Regions from separate parts of the Homo sapiens genome. Here region 2 is linked to region 1. A link means that fine-mapping ties the variant in region 1 to the expression of a gene that starts in the linked region. Tissue or cell type: esophagus muscle. Region 1 holds a variant in brackets; the other region holds the start of a gene. All regions are shown on one strand. Distances are from middle to middle.

Evidence for each region. PIP is the estimated chance that this variant, and not a neighbour inherited with it, causes the effect.
Region 2: it holds the start of PITPNA, and the variant in region 1 is fine-mapped to the expression of PITPNA in esophagus muscle (GTEx, PIP 0.93).

What each region holds. Positions count from the first base shown.
Region 1 is chr17:1,512,490-1,520,668 of GRCh38, reverse strand. It overlaps INPP5K (inositol polyphosphate-5-phosphatase K), which reads left to right and starts at 4,057. Exons shown (of 12, transcript NM_016532.4): 1 at 4,057-4,213; 2 at 6,690-6,797; 3 at 7,108-7,216. The coding sequence starts at 4,170. It overlaps PITPNA (phosphatidylinositol transfer protein alpha), which reads left to right. Exons shown (of 12, transcript NM_006224.4): 12 at 131-2,951. PITPNA-AS1 (PITPNA antisense RNA 1) reads right to left here and starts at 3,750. Exons shown (of 2, transcript NR_028514.1): 1 at 3,576-3,750; 2 at 2,573-2,951. RefSeq lists a silencer at 3,672-3,971. The variant A/T (reference allele first, on the strand shown) is at 4,558.
Region 2 is chr17:1,558,057-1,566,227 of GRCh38, reverse strand. PITPNA (phosphatidylinositol transfer protein alpha) reads left to right here and starts at 3,436. Exons shown (of 12, transcript NM_006224.4): 1 at 3,436-3,687; 2 at 7,669-7,699. The coding sequence starts at 3,668. RefSeq lists silencers at 3,264-3,543, 3,614-3,663, 4,144-4,273 and enhancers at 3,116-3,615, 4,384-4,483, 5,398-6,364.

The DNA of each region.
Region 1 (8,179 bases):
TGCTCTCCCCCACTCCCTTCCCCACCCACCCACTGGCTTCCCTCCTCCTCTTGAAATTATCCATTCAGGACGATTTACAGTGTTTCTGTTTTCTCCTCTTGCTTCCTTAATACTTTCATTTTTCTTCTAGTTTTGCAAGACAGTGGTCAACAGGAAGACCCAGCAGCTCCACCCTCCCAAGTGACAGGCCATTTTCGGACGCAGCCGTTCTGTGCCCATTCTTCAGGCAACTTTCGATTCCTTACTGTAGCTAATTCTAGATGCCCTTCAGTATTGTGAACAAATAGACCGTCTGGTGTCACAGAGCCCGCGTGTGCAGGAGCCTGCTCCTCCGAGATACGTGGCGTGTAGGTTGCTGTAGTTACAGCGCCTCCGTCTCTCTCCATTGTGTTCCGATCCATTTCTGTGTGTTCCCCCAACCTTTATTTCCAAGTGACATTTTCAGTCTTTCAAATAGCTGCCTTTTGTGATGTGGTGATTTAAATGATTTAAGTTCATTTGTTCTCAACCTTGGGGTAAACTGAGGTATTTTGCTTCCTGGGAAGATCTTCGCAATTTTGAGTGCTCCTGTGGGGAGCGGGGATGAGCTAAAGATACAATGTTTCCCTGCCCCGCACCGCTTCCACAAAATAGCAATGTGGTTTTGCAGCTCTGACTTCTGCTCCCAGTAACCCATCGTTAGGGCACTCTAGCACTATGGAGGTACCCAAGGCTCAGCCAGTCTCTATTTAAGAAAATTTAACAAATACGAGTAACCCTGTCCCAATCACTGAATCTCTAGTTACTACTCTTAGAAACACCTGTGGCTTCTTGGCCCTCCTGTTGCCCGCTCTGAATCTCTCTGCAGTCTACAAAATCGCCCCAGTCAACTCTCCACTTGGAGGGAATTGTCCAGTGTGGCCCCTAGAATTGAGTCACCCCCTAGATACCAACTGTCTGACCCCGAGGAGCTCTGTAAGTCCCTGCTCCTCCTCTTCCCTTTGGGGCTGGTGCTGCCACTCAGCAATAATCCTCTTTTCTCTGTGCTTTCTTAGGTCCCTGTCCTCTGTCTTTGAGGCTGGTTAGGAAGCAAGAGTCCTGATCTTTCATGCTGCACAATATGAGCATGCAAAAAGCTTTTTCCAGCAGAACATGTTCCCTCGTCTCCAGTTGCCGGAAAGGAATTTGGGGATCAAGAACTTAGCTCGTCCTACCCCCATGTTGAGTTCTGCCCTGGAAAACCCAAAGCAAGTAGTGATCATAGTACAGAACCCGACCAAAGTAGGCTGGTGAGGAAGTCCAGGCTCCAGGGGAACAGACGCTGCCCAGTGTTCATAGCTTCCTGCAACTTGACAGAGCCTGAGTTTGCCTCTTAGTGGGAGAATGAGAGAGAGCTGTAGTGTCACCTGACATTCCCCAAACCTTGTGAAGCACGTTGGCCTAAGTGTGCCGTGATCCCAGCCCACACTAGCCTGGGTGCATCTGCTAATGGGAGACCAAATCTTTGTCCGGGAAGCAAGAAGTGGGTGGGAGAATGTATCCTGTTTTTGTCAGTTTGTTTGCCTTACTCATTTCTAAGTGCAATAAGGGAGTGTCTCACAGGATTGCACCTGTGACATCCTGATGGATGCTTCCCTGTGGCCCTCCTGGGGCAAGGGTGGACAGACTCAGACCCCCAGCATGGTTAGCGCTGACCTTCATTGAGGTCCCTTTGGAACCAGATGTCTTGTTACAGACACCTTCCTCTGTGTAAGTCTCCTCACCTTGAGGGGTCTTTAGTAATGCATCTGGGTAGCATCTCAACTGCTGGTAGCATTTATCTGACTTGGAAAGTTGGAGAAGAGGCATTCCTACTGGAGAAAAATGTCAGTGTTTTCCTATAAGCTCTGTGTTAGCTATTCATTATATTTGTGCTTAAAGATGTTCCTTCATTCATCAACTAGGGGAAGTCCAGATGCGGGTTATCTTGAAAGAAACAAACTGACATTCTAGGCAGACAGTTGTCTATGTGGTCTGAGGGTCAGCAGCTGTTAGTCTCCTTCCTTTGGCTCTTGAGACCCACACATATCACTTTAGCCCTAACAAGGGCTCCTCCCACCTCCACCTGTTGCCCCAGTTGAAAAGCATCCATTATGAGCTGAGGTCAGCCTGGATCTGGAATTGCAGCCCACATAAACATAAAGGAGGATGTCCCTGGTCTGTTCCATCCCCACGGATGGTGTTGCTGCTGGGCAACAGTGTTGGCTTCTTTTAAGTACCCCCTTTCCTCCTCACCCACCTCCAAACTGACTAGCACTCAGAGGGACTTATGATAAAGGTTCAGCTCCAGGGGTAGTACCTGAGTGTGTGCCATGCCCCTTCAGACCAGCTGCTTCCATCAGAATTCCAGGGTCACAGCCCCAACAGAAGCAGCAGTGCCTCTGTAGGAGGGGTGCTGGGCTCTGGCCTTCTCATGCAGAGAGGTCCGGGACAGGGTCAGTATCGTGGGCATGTGTATAGCTTCCCAAGTTCTTTTACAGTCCCTGCTGGGACTCCCTGACTTACTTTGGTTGGTTCCTAGTGCTACTTGTTTTACAAACTACACTTTGTAGAATTGATTAGATTACCTTGTTTATTTAATGTGAGTTTGTGCCTTTTTGTCTCAATCTTCCAATACAGGTATATTGAGAAAAAAAGCAGTCTAATAAAATCCTAGACAGAACTTTCTGGAGTCCAGTTTGGTGATGTCCATTTTCCAGCTGTATGTATCCTCAAACTTGCACTGATAACCGCCATTTTACCAGGGCAGGATTAGGAAGAGGTACAAAGGTGTGTCTGAAAATTTTTGCACGTGGATTTCTGCATATAATAGTCCCGTGTCAGTTTACTTATGCAAACATTGCACATCTGAATTGTAATTCGGCCGTTTCCTACTGACAGGATGTCCTTTTGCTTTTGTCTGCCTCCTCTTCACATCTTCCTCTTTATCCACCCTACCAAACAAGCAAAACATTTATTTAAAGTAGTTTTAGGCCGGGCGCGGTGGCTCACACCTGAAATCGCAGCACTCTGGGAGGCCGAGGCGGGTGGATCAGCTGAGGTCAGGAGTTCGAGACCAGCCTGACCAACATGGCGAAACCCCATCTCGGCTAATTATTATTATTATTTTTTTTTTTTGAAACGAAGTCTCGCTCTGTCGCGCAGGCTGGGGTGCAGTGGCGCAATCTCGGCTCACTGCAACCTCCACCTCCCGGGTTCAGGCGATTCTCCTGCCTCAGCCTCCCGAGTAGCTGGGATTAACAGGCGCGCGCTATCAAGCCCAGCTAGCTTTTGTGTTTTTAGCAGAGACGGGGTTTCACCATGTTAAGGCCAGGCTGGTCTTAAACTCCTGACCTCAAGTGAGCCGCCCGCCTCGGCCTCCCAAAGTGCTGGGATTACAGGCATTGAGCCACCGCGCCCCGGCCTACGTTTCATTTATTGACGGCTAATTCTGTAGGAGTCCAGGAATCCCCAAACGTCCCATATGCAATAGGTAATCCAATAAGTTTGGAGTAGAAGCCTGAAAGTGGGCGTGGAGAACGGAGGCGCTCCCGCAGTAGCAGGAATGGGGAGATTACCTGCAGCCGGGGGGCGGGGGAGACCGGATCCCAGGCAGGACAGTGGCTAGGCTGCGTGTCCCCACCCCCGACCCTCGTTTGACCCCTGGGAGCCGGGGCGAAGACAGCACAAGGACGGAGCCCTCGGATCCCTCACGAGTGGGGCAGAGGCTGCGGCGGCGGCGAAGAGACAACTTCCGCCGGAAGACGGCCCCTGGCGCGGGGCACGCTGGGAGCTGCGGACGGCGGGCGCGGGCTGGGCCGGGTCTAGTGGCGGCCGCACACCTCGCGTCGTCTGGGGCAGTGTTGCGCGTGCGCTGATGACAGGCCCGACACGCCCCTCTTACGTCCGCGAACCCGTCTTCGCTCAGCCTCTCGCAGCTTTGCGCTCGTGGGAGAGTCCCGCCTCCTTCTGCGAACCGCACCACCCAGATCCCGGGGTGCGCGGAGGGCGCGTCTCTGACGGAAGCCGGGGCGGACGGTCGGAGTCCGGAAGAAAAACAGTCCGCGACAGCTAGGCGCGTGAGACCGGCCGCCCGCAGGGCTGCTCTGGCCGGGACCCGCTGGCCGGGAGACGCGAACCTGCCGGACCACCGCGCGGGGACGACGGCGGCCATGAGCTCGCGGAAGCTGAGCGGGCCGAAAGGCAGGAGGCTCAGGTGAGGGCACCCTGGCGGCAGAGGCAGGCCTGCTCGGGGGGATCGGCGCCCCTTGGGCTGCGGGCTGGGGGTGGACAAGGCACCAGACCTCCATGACTGCCTTTGGTTCAGAGGCGCTCTCGCCTTCTCCCACGCCTGTGTCAGGTGGGCTGTGTTGGGCCCGAGCCTCGCGCCCCCTCTAAGCCGAGGCCGCCAAGCTCGTTCCCACTGGGGCGCAGCAGGTGTCCCGGTTGCTTTCTGGAGAGGACAGCCGTGTGGGGTTGTTTGAGGTTAAAGACATAACGAGGCCGTCACCCTTCGGCTCTCGGTTAGAAATCTTTTTCCTACTTTTCATCAGCACATAC[A/T]TCAGGAGGTCTGCCTGATCCCATGGTGAACCCCGGGAATCCGAAATCAGATTGAGATAAGATCCTTTAGGGAAGTGACTTAGCCTGGTCTCTTGCCTGCTCTTTCACGGGGAACAACGCTAATCGCCCACTTAGTCTAAGTCACGATGCTTGGATTTGCTGCTAATCGTCGGATTTGAGAGTGGGAACAAGAAATCCGGACTTTTGCTCTCCATCCTCTTAGAGTGAGTCTGGGAAAAGAAGTCTCTGAGTAAAAGGTCTTTGTTCCTTAAGCCTCTGTCGGACAGCAGGGGGAGATCGTAAACAAATGAAGCTCAAAATCTCAGGCCGAGTGCCTGGGAAGGTGGTTTCTGTATAGTGTTGTTTATGCTAACAGGGAGGGACAGGAAGTTGCTTTAAACTGGCCAAGAATTTCTTGAAGTGCTTTTGAGAACGTCGACCTCTAAGGACGGGGTCTGTTGGAGGAGAGATGTTTTGGCATTAACTGCCCTTTTCTCCCATCCCCCTGTACCCTCTGCCATTCCAGATCTCCAGCTGCTGCAGGTACTCCTCATCGTGTGCCTAGGACTCATGCTAGGCTGTTCCTGGTCTCTGCAGGGTCTGTAGCTCCTGCCCGCTCTGTGCTCCGCACAGTCTGAGGCTTCTTGAAGAGCTGCTGTGACTGACTGTTCCACTAAAGACATCTGTAGGTCTCTCTTTCCTGAGCCTCTGACTGGATCCAGTGTCATTGAGGCCCCTTATCTAGTTTTCTTGCTTCCCTAAGACTTGTAAGCTGAGGTGGAAAATATCCAACTGATGACTTTTCCCCAGAGAGTACTCTTTATTTTTCACGGAATACTACGCAGACATAGAGCATAGACTCTTAAGAGAGATGTCGAGAAACCTGTTACTTAAAAACTCCTTGGCCGGGCGCGGTGGCTCAGGCCTGTAATCCCAGCACTTTGGGAGGCTGAGGCGGGCGGATCACCTGAGAGATCAGGAGTTCAGGACCAGCCTGGCCAACATGGTGAAACCCCGTCTCTACTAAAAATACAAAAGTTAGCCAGATGTGGTGGCACACACCTGTAATCCCAGCTACTTGGGAGGTTGAGGCAGGAGAACTGCTGGAACCTGGGAGGCGGAGGCTGCGATGAGCCGAGATCATCCCAGTCCACTCCAGCCTGGGCAACAGAGTGAGACTCAGTCTCAAAAAAAAAAAAAAAAAAAGTCTCGCTGAAGTGCTTGGCAAAATTGGCTTGCTCCAGGGATCTGCTAGGGAGGAGAGAGGAAGGGAATATGGTGGTGTTATCTCTTTTATTTTTTAAATTCCTCTGCCCTTGTAGTGCTGAGGCCTATCACAAGGTGAAATCTGAATCCCTAGGATCTTCCTGGTGGTCTTAGGAACACTTGGGGTGAGAAGTAGGGATCAGAAGTTGCCGACTGAGCCATAGATGATGACAGAGGGGTGTGGGTGGCTGGAGGAGCTGATGGAATTAATACATTCCTGGCAGTTCAGCCCCCTAACCCTTCGCTAGCCTGACCTGAAATTCTTGGGCTCCCTTTGGCGACTCTGCTATATCAGCAGCACCAGTGCTGCCGGGTGTGGGTGGCTGTGAGCCAGCATGGAGGACCCAGTCCGGGGTGGGGATTTCTTGCTTCAGCAGAGAAAGGTGAGGACGGACAGCTGATGGTTCAGTATCCCCATTCCCTCCACCAGCACAGAAACCCACATTTCCCATCATGAGTGTGGCAGATTGCAGTGACATAAGCAGGCCTAGACCCCGTGCACTATCTTTTTTTTTTTTCTTTTGAGACAGAGTCTCACTCTGTCACCCAGGCTGGAGTGCAGTGGCACAATGTCGGCTCACTGCAACCTCTGCCTCGTGGGTTCAAGCAATTCTCCTGCCTCAGCCTCCAGAGTAGCTGGGATTACAGGCGCCTGCCACCATGCTGGGCTAATTTTTGTACTTTTAGTAGAGACGGGGTTTCACCATGTTGGCCAGGCTTGTCTCGAACTCCCGACCTCAGGTGATCCGCCCACCTCGGCCGCCCAAAGTGCTGTGATGACAACGTGTGAGCCTCTGCGCCCAGCCGACCCCGTGCACTATCTTATCCTCCTTCCTCCATGACTTCCCTCTGCATCCCTTCCGCAGCATACACGTCGTGACTTGGAACGTGGCTTCGGCAGCGCCCCCTCTAGATCTCAGTGACCTGCTTCAGCTGAACAACCGGAACCTCAATCTTGACATATATGTTATTGGGTAGGTATCTGCAGGCTCCTTCGCCCATCCCTGACCAGTCCCAGGTTTCCCTGTGGGAAGCACTGTGACCTGCCCTCCTCCGCTCTGGAGTCTGAAGGCTGGGAGCTTTCAGCCTGCTTCAGGGACAGTCCCATGTCTCTGGTCCCGGGTCAGCAACGGCAAAGGGGGCTGGAGATCAGCAGGCAGGGGAGGGAGACCTCATGGCCATCAGAACTCAGGCCTTGAAAGTCCGTGAAGATGGTATCAAATATCTGTGGCAGGGGAAGTAGCCTGGAGGCCAGGGGCCAAGCCTCTGAGCTGGCATGGTCAGTTTGCAGGAATTGAACTCTGGGATCATAAGCCTCCTTTCCGATGCTGCCTTTAATGACTCGTGGAGCAGTTTCCTCATGGATGTGCTTTCCCCTCTGAGCTTCATCAAGGTAACTTGCCAGTTCATTGGCACTTGACAACTGTGTTTTCACATCTCCACTGACCCCTGCTTGTTGGGTCTGATGTGTTCCTCTTACTCCTGCTCAGCCTTTCATGCTGTTTCCCATTTGTTTAAAGGGCTAAACCTCCCTTCCACCTGGACCCCGGGGCCCCTGCCTGCCTTCGCCTTTCTGAGGGAGCTGGAGTCTCCAGGGGTTGGGTTAACACCTGGATATGTTTCAGCTTGGGAAGATTCTGAGGGGAGGTGCAGCAGGGCTTGTCATCACCTCAGTGCTGGCCGCTGCCCCAGCCACCAGTCTCTACTCAAATGCCCATCCTGAAGTCTCTGAGTGTAATCATACGGCTGTCATTTATCAAGTGCTTACTTGTTGTTACACATCATAAGTAGCTCTTTATAGTATATATGTTATTTTAAAATCTTAACAAGTCTGTTGAAATAGAGATATTTTACAGAGAAAACCATGGCTCAGAAGCCACATGCGCTATCTGGGATTTGGATCCAGATCTCTCAAACTTCATAACCCAAGTTCTTAACTACTAATACCTTATTGCTATGCTGGTGAACTCTAAGACTGACAGATCTTAGGCGTGGCTAGCCTGCTGGTGTCATAGGGTATCCTCAGGTCATACGGGACGTGCACTTCAGATTCTGGGGGTCCAGAGGTTAGGAGAGGGGAGTCAGGTGTGGTGGGTACTTTGGGCGGCTTTCTTAGTCTGAGAGACCAGTATACTCTGGGGTGTCTTTAGACAGTAGGAGAGTCCACAGGAAGGCCCTGGGTTGCCAGATCTTCACCTTCACCTTGGTTCTGCCCTGCACACCTGAGGAATGAAACACACTCCCATTCACAGCACCTGGTATACAGCTGCTTAGAAATACCAGAATTCCCTCTTTCCCCTTCCTGGATGACTCTTGTTCTTCAGAATGGATTCTGTCAGCCTAGTTTGCCTGGGGG
Region 2 (8,171 bases), 46 kb before region 1:
AATATGCCACTCACTGCAGAAAGCTGCTTCATGTCCATTGCCTCATCCAAGGAGGCTCAGCAGCCCCATGACGCAGGTACCGGCATGTTCCCTATTTCCCAAGTGAAGAAACTGAGATACAGAGAGGTTAAGTCACTTGCACAAGGTCACAGAGGTAGGAAGTGGAGGCCTGGGACTCCAAGGCAGCGGAAGTCTGTGTCCTGGGTGGGGCTGTTGGCTCACAGTGTGGCACAGCTGGAGAGTGGTGTGACCCCTGCGTCTAACCCGTATGGACATCTGCAGCAAACTTGCTATTGAAAAAGATGTAAAAAACGTAACTCAAAATAAAGTGTGAAAAAAAAAAATACATGGACCTTGCCTGGATACTGAACTTCTCTAAAGGAAACTATAGCATTTTTTAGATTAGCAGGGAAATTAGAATATGAACTGGGGATGAGATAGCATCAGGAAATCATTATTAATTTTGTTAAGTATGACAATGGCATTATGCATTTGTAAGAAATGTGCATATTTCTAGAATGTGCACTGTAACCTGGAGGGGTGAGATGACATGATGTCCAAGGTCGGCTTGTTTTTTTTTATTTTAATTTAAATTTAATTTTATTTTCTTATTATACTTAAGTTCTAGGGTACATGTGCACAACGTGCAGGCTTGTTACATATGTATACATGTGCCATGTTGGTGTGCTGCACCCATTAACTAGTCATTTACATTAGGAATATCTCCTAATGCTATCCCTCCCCCTCCCCCCGTCCCACAACAGGCCCCAGAGTGTGATGTTCCCCTTCCTGTGTCTAAGTATTCTCATTGTTCAATTCCCACCTATGAATGAGAACATGCAGTGTTTGGTTTTCTGTCCTTGCTATAGTTTGCTGAGAATGATGGTTTCCAGATTCATCCATGTCCTTACAAAGGATATTAACTCATCCTTTTTTATGGCTGCATAGTATTCCATGGTGTATATGTGCCACATTATCTGAGACTTTTTTTTTTTTGAGACAGAGTCTAACTCTCGCCAGGCTGGAGCGCAGTGACACGATCTTGGCTCGCTGCAACCTCTGCCTCCTGAATTCAAGTGATCCTCCTGCATTCAAGTGATCCTCCTGCCTCAGCCTCCCGAGTAGCTGGGACTACAGGCGCGTGCCACCACACCCAGCTAATTTTTGTATTTTTAGTAGAGACAGGGTTTCACCATTTCAGCCAGGATGGTCTTGATCTCTTGACCTGATGATCCGCCCGCCTCAGCCTCCCAAAGTGGTAGGATTATAGGAGTGAGCCACCGCGCCCGGCTGTGCCACATTTTCTTTATCCAGTCTGTCATTGATGGGCATTTGGGTTGGTTCCAAGTCTTTGCTATTGTGAATAGTGGTCGGCTTGTTTTTTTGAGACAGAATCTTGCTCTGTCGCCCAGGCTGGAGTGCGGTGGCATGATCTCGGCTCACTGCAACCTCTGCCTCCAGGGCTCAAGCGATTCTCCTACCTCAGCCTCCCGAGTAACTGAGACGACAGGCACATGCCACCACACTGAGCTAATTTTTGTTTTAGTAGAGATGGGGTTTTACCATGTTGGCCAGGCTGGTCTTGAACTCCTGGCCTCAAGTGATTCGCCCGCCCCAGCCTCCCAAAGTGCTGGGAATCCAGGTGTGAGGCACTCAGCCTGGCCCCCACTCTAGGATCTGATAAGTGAGCACAGTGCTCAGGGCAGTCGCGGGCCGCCAGTCACATCCTGATAGCAACACGGCCAGCTGCTCCACCCTCCCTTCCCAAGTCCCTGTCTTAGGCAGCCCACTCCCATCTCCCCTGGATGCCCCTCTAGCGTCCTGCGCTGAGTGTGAGTCCAGCACTGGAGTCATTACCTGCCCCCATGCCAGCCTGTCTTGCCTGTGTTCTCAGAGAAGACAGTACCGTCCACCCCGGCTCCCAGGCCAGAGACCTCGCTGCTTTTCTCTCCTCCTCTCAGCCAATGAGTCAACAAGTCTCACGGAGTTTACCTTCTGAGTTGCTCCTGAATCCATCCCTTCCTTTTCTTCCCTCCCACTGTCCTAGTCCACCTGCACCTGGACATCTGCAGCAGCCTCCTCGCCGGTCTCCCTGCCTACGCTCTGGCATTCCATCCCCTCTGTCCACCCAACCACTAGAGTGAGCCTTCGCCCAGGACACCCGCTCATGTCACTGCTCAGAGCCCTTACATGCCCTCCCACCGCCCTTAGGGTGGACTCCAAATACCTTATCATCGTTCACCAGGAACCCTCCCCTATTGAGCTGCTCAGCCCTGAAATGTTCTGTTCCACTCACTTGTCAGTTCTCCAAATGCACCATGCTCTCCCTCTTGCCTCCAGCCTTTGCATTCACTCTGCCTGCTATGCTCTTCTCCGAAGCCCTCTGCAGATCTGAGAATCTCTTCCTCCAGGAAGCCTTCCCTGACTACATCCCTGACGCTCAATTAGGTGCCCCTCCGTGTAATGCCGCTAAGCCTGTGTCTCATTTCTCACAGCCCTTTTCATTCTTTTTTTTTTTTTTTTTTTTGATGCAGAGTCTCGCTCTGTCGCCCCAGCTGGAGTGCAATGGTGCGATCTCGGCTCACTGCAACCTCCGCCTCCAGGGTTCAAGCGATTCTCCTGCCTCATCCTCCCGAGCAGCTGGGACTACCACCACCACGTCCACCACCACGCCCGGCTAATTTTTGTACTTTTAGTAGAGATGGGGTTTCGCCATCTGGTCTGGAACTCCTGACCTCAGGTGATGCGCCCGCCTGAGTGCTGCATTACAGGCATGATGTGCCTGGGATTACTGCCAGGAGCCACCGCGCCCGGCCTCACAGCCCTTTTCTTTTCTTTTTTTTTTTTTTGAGACGAAGTTTCACTCTTGTCCCCCAGGCTGGAGTGCAATGGCGCGATCGCGATCTCGGCTCACTGCAAACTCTGCCTCCCGGTACAAGCGATTCTCCCGCCTCAGCCTCCCGTGTAGCTGGGATTACAGGTGCGTGCCTCCACGCCCAGCTAATTTTTGTATTTTTAGTAGAGACGGGGTTTCATCATGTTGGCCAGGCTGGTCTCGAACTCCTGACCTCAGGTGATCCGCCCGCCTCGGCCTCCCAAGGTGCAAGGATTACAGGCGTGGGCCACCGCGCGCGGCTATTAATATTTTTTGAAACAACCTTTTCCTGGGTCTCAATTCCCTCAACCGGGGAGGCCCCCCAGCCAGCACCCGCGTGCATCCGTGGCGGTTCACACCGAGGACGGTGACGGACACCCTAGTCTGCTCCGCCTTCTGCCGGGTCTGGCCCCAGCCGCGGGGCCCCACCTCGGAACCGACAGCGCCGCCGCGGCCCACTTAAGGACGGGAGGGCGGGCCTGGGAAGGCTCGGCCCCGCGTGACGTCAGCGCGCACCGCGGCGTGTGACGCTCTGGTTGCCGCAGAGACGCCCCGCCCCCGCGCGGCGCTGCGGAACCGGAGCTCCGGGCGGCGTCGGCAGCGGCGCGAGAGGCGACGAGGCCCGGGCGGCAGGAGCCGGCGCGGCGACCGCGGCGAGGGCGGCGGGGACGGAGCAGAGCACGACGAAGACGCACAGGCAGCCGGGCCGGGCCGGGCCACGGGGAGAGCGGCCGGCGGGCAGCGGGCGGGAGGCCGGGCGGGCCGCGGGCAGCCACCGAGCCGCGAAGCGACATGGTGCTGCTCAAGGAGTAGTGAGTGTCCGGCGGCCGTGCGGAAGCGGGGAGGAGGGAGGGTGGGGACGGCCGCCGGGGCGACGGCGCGGCGAGGGACGCAGGGCCCGGATGGACGGAGGGGCAGCAGGGACGGAGGGTGCCTGAGGCGGGCCCAGCGGGGATGGAGGGGATCCGGGGCGGGCGGCACGTGAGGCGGGGCCCACGGGGCACGGAGGGGCGGCCGGGGCGTGGAGGGGCGGCCGGGGCGTGGAGGGGCAGCCGGGGCGTTCGGCATCTGAGCCGGGGCCCACGGGGCATGGACGGGCAGCCGGGGCATGGAGGGGCCCACGGGCACGGAGGGACAACCCGGGCGGACGGCTCCTCAGGCGCCCCGGGGGCCTCGGAGGCCCAAGTGGACCCGAGGAGAGGCCGGGGACAGCGAGGGCGAGGCCAGGCCCGAGACGGGGTCAGGGCAGGGAGAGCTGGCCCGGGACTGGGGGAGGCCGAGGGGACGCCGAGCGCTGGGAGTGCTGTGGGGTCGCTCTGCGCGGGCCGAGGGCGCGGGCTCAGCCGGGACTGCAGGCGGCGCTGAGAGGCCCCGCGGCGGCCGAGGAAGAGGCGCACCGGGGCAGGCAGGGCCTCCCGGCGGTGGGGAAAGGTGGAGGGCCGAACAGTTCACACGGAGAGCCGGGTGGATGGGTCAGAGGCTCCGCGATGGAGTTGGGATGGGGATGGGGAGGAGTGGCCGCCTTAGGCATCGGGTGAGGGGTGGTGGTAAGTGGACACAGGAGGAGGACTAGGAAGTCAGGGCCTGGCTGGGGAGACAGGTGAAGGGTCTGAGGACATGCAGAGGGGGCTGAGATGCGGGCCGGAGTAACCGTGGTGCCCAAGCAGCTGGTGCGGAAGAGGAGGCTTTTGGAACAAGCTTGGGATGACTGCTTGGGACGTGGGGAGACTTGGGCGAGGAGGCCAGAAAATGTTGGGTAGGGTCCGAAGTGGAGAAGGCCGGGAAGTTACCGGGGTCGAGGCTGGTCCGGAAAGAGAGTATGTTGGGATGAGTATACCTGCCGTTGGAGATGGGGGAGACCAGGGCAGGGCCAGCTTGTTTCTAGGGGATTCTCAGTCTTGGTGCAAAGAGATGGGGAAATTCTTTGAGGAATTGAGGGGTCCATGGAGCCGTGAACTGAGGAGAGATGGTGGAAGGGGTGGGGAGCTCTTGAGTAGTGAAGAGGGGTGCGTGGGAAACTGGTGACTTCTGGAAGGAGTTGCAGGATGACGGGTTTGCTCCTGAAATCCAGGGGACTGGGGGACAGGTGGAGATGTTTGGTGTGCTAAATCTTTCAAGTACAAGATGAGCCATCGTTGAAGCTCAGGGTTCCAAGTAAGCATCACAGGACATTTTTCTCCCCAAAGAGGAGAGATAGGATGGGTGTGTGTGTGTGTGTGCGTGTGCGTGTGTGCACAGAATTTACAGTGAAACTGCTTTCCTGGAGGGAGGGCCAGAAGCCCCAGGAGTGGGAGATGGTCAAACAGAGAGCAACTTGTGAGGCAGCCAGGCAGGTGTGCAGAGAGCTCTTGCCACTTTGTCAGCGATCGCACTTTGACCATCCCCACCAGGCTGGCTCCTTGGAGGTGCTTAGGACATTTAGGACATAGAGTGGAGTTTGGGTAACAGAGGGAGCTGAGACCCACATGTCATCCCAGCTAAACACCTCATCTGAAGAGCATTATTTTGAGGCCTCATCCCCTCTGTTTCTTGACATCCAGTCTGATGTTAATTCAGCCAGGGCTCGGAGCTTTTCCTGGTGAGGAGGAAGAACTTTACGATGCCAACAGGAGAACGTGGTGCACTTTAGATTTTAATCTTCAGTGTCCAGACTGACAGGCTTTTCCCATCCTTCTGATTCTTTTTCCTGTTCCCAAATGAACCCTAGAATCTGTAGAAATCTGTGGTTTTGAAATGAAGGTCAGGCAGGGAAAGGAAGGGACCTTCAGAGGAGATCTGAGTGAGGTTTGAAGAGAGGCACTCCTTCCCTGTCTTTGTTCTCCTCCCCTTGAAGCCTGCAAGGGAAAAGTCCAAGGTGCCGGAGATGCAGGGCCTGCCTGGTATCTGCGTTTCCTTCCTGCCCGACTCGTGCCCCGTGTGTGCATCCCTGGGCGGGGGACGGGGGAGGAGCAGGGGCATCAGGGCATCCGAGACACTGGCTGTGGCCGCAGCGTTGCAGCCCTGGAAAGGGTGCGAGTGAAGGTCACATTAGAGTGAGTGCCGCTCCAGGCCCAGCCCGGCAGTTCCTCTGTGGCCCTGTCCTTTGGAATTGTACCCTATTGCTGCCGAAGTGGTTTTGTTCCTAAGGAGCAAGGGGGCAGTGTCAGAGTGTGCAGCCGTCACGTCAGCAGCCTCAGCGCATCCCGTCAGGAATTGGCCCATGGCATTCTCTTTTGGGGTGAGACTTGGTTCCCACCCAGCGTCTGCAGGTTGCCCCTGTTGATTTTTCCAACACTTCCTCTAACAGGATTCTGTTTAATTTGATTTCTGCAAAATCTTGGATGTGATTTTGACTGCTGTTCTTGAAGATAAAAGGCTTATTGTTTTCTAGGAAGTTTCTTCTGAGGGTGCAGAAATTCTGGCCTCCAAGTTGGGAGTATTTTTCTGCACCACTGGCTTTCTGTAATGGGAGGGGAGGCTCACTGGCAGCATTCAGTAAACTGGAGGATTTATGTTGTTTGAGTTGCTCTGGAGGAAGGGAGTTGTTAGCAGGCAGTAAAGACTTGGAGCCCATTTTGTTTTTCCTGCTACTTTCCTGCTTGGTGTCTTGCCTTTGAGGTGATGTTTTCCTCAGACCCCTCTGTGTCCTTCTTGCTTCCTGGGGGACCTTTGTGGAACTAGAAAATAGCTGTTTACTAGCCTGGAGCAAGGAGCCTGAGTGGTGAGCCGGCTGCATAAGGAAGGCACAGCAGCTCATGCTTCCCTAATGCTTCACTAAACATGCAAGACACAAAAGGACCCAGAGGGCTCCAGCAAGGGTCTGGGGACCGAACGTCTAAGCTTGGAAACTGGCTGGACTTGTATGGGTAAAACCAAGAGTTTTTGTCTTAGCTCTCCCGCCTCACAGCTTTGAACTGGGGGTGGCTCTTGGTCTGCATTTCACATGCACGGCACCTGGAGAAGTGCTGCTAGCCCTGGCACCTCTGTGGGGTTCTGGCCCTGGCGGAGACTTTGCCGGCCACGGCTTCTCCAATAGGTTGCTGGTGGCATCTCCAGCAATTGGTGGTCATTGAGTTGGAGAAGAAGAAAAGAAAATGATAAATTGGGATTCCTTTGGACAGCTCCTGGAGGTCAGGACATAAGTTGAATGCCCTCTTGGTGGCTTTGTGGTAGCAGCTTGGATTGTAATATCCAGCCCCGAGCAGAGATGCCCGGTGTGTGTTCTTAGGCTTCAAGGGGCTTGGTCCCTTCCTGGCCCTTCCCCTGGAGGGCTGTTGTTGGGAGGTTGGGTCCACAGAAATTTAAGTCCCCAGGGCCTCTTGTTTGGGTCTGAATCCTCACCATGATAGGTCCTCCTGTGTTAACCTGTCTTACTAGACTCACTGGCAAGTCTTGTTGGGGGGACGACTCATTGGCAAGTTTGGGTGAAGTTTATCATCCATATGTCCAGTTCCGAATGTGAGGTGGAGGCCTGGGAAGTAGCTGGCGGGAGGATAGGTTTGGACTGAATCACAGGGTTCTAACTGGGATGCCTCAAGGTACAGAGGGTCCTGTCCTCAGAGCACTAAGAGGGCCATTCTCTGGGGGGGGGGGCGGGGGGGGGGTGTTGTCACAGAGTTTAGTGTCTTACACCTCTAGGGCACAGAGGGTCCTGTCCTCAGAGCACTCAAAGGGCCATTCTCTGTGGGGTTTTCGTCACTGAATTTAGTGTCTTACACAATAGAATGCTGCTGACTGTTTTAGGATGATGCTTTAAAGAGCCTTGAGCAGATTGCACAGCCTAAAGTTGATACTCTCTTTTCCCTTTCTTATAGTCGAGTAATCCTGCCTGTGTCTGTAGATGAGGTAAGTCCTTTTACTTTCTGGTCCATAGTTGTGTGTAACTGTTTGTGACCATTGGCTAAGCTGGGCTCTGAGTGGTTATCCTGTTTATATAGTTTTCTTATTTGTTCTAACATAAATATTTCAATGTGAATTTCGTGGTGCCACTTTCAGTTGAAAAATGGCACTTACTTTGTATATCTGGGTAACTGTGTGCAACCTGTCCCAAGCTGTTGGTATGCTGGATGAGTAGAGATTAAACCAGCCCCTTTTATCTGCTGGGGCTGTGCATGTCTGGGGACCCTTTTTTTTTTTTTTTTTTGAGACGGAGTCTTGCTCAGTTTCCCAGGCTGGAGTGCAGTGGTGCGATCTCCGCTCACTGCAACCTCTGCCTCGTGGGTTCAAGCTATTCTCCTGCCTCAGCCTCCCAAGTAGCCGGGATTACAGGTGTGTGCCACCACACCCGGCTAATTTTTATATCTTTAGTAGAGATGGG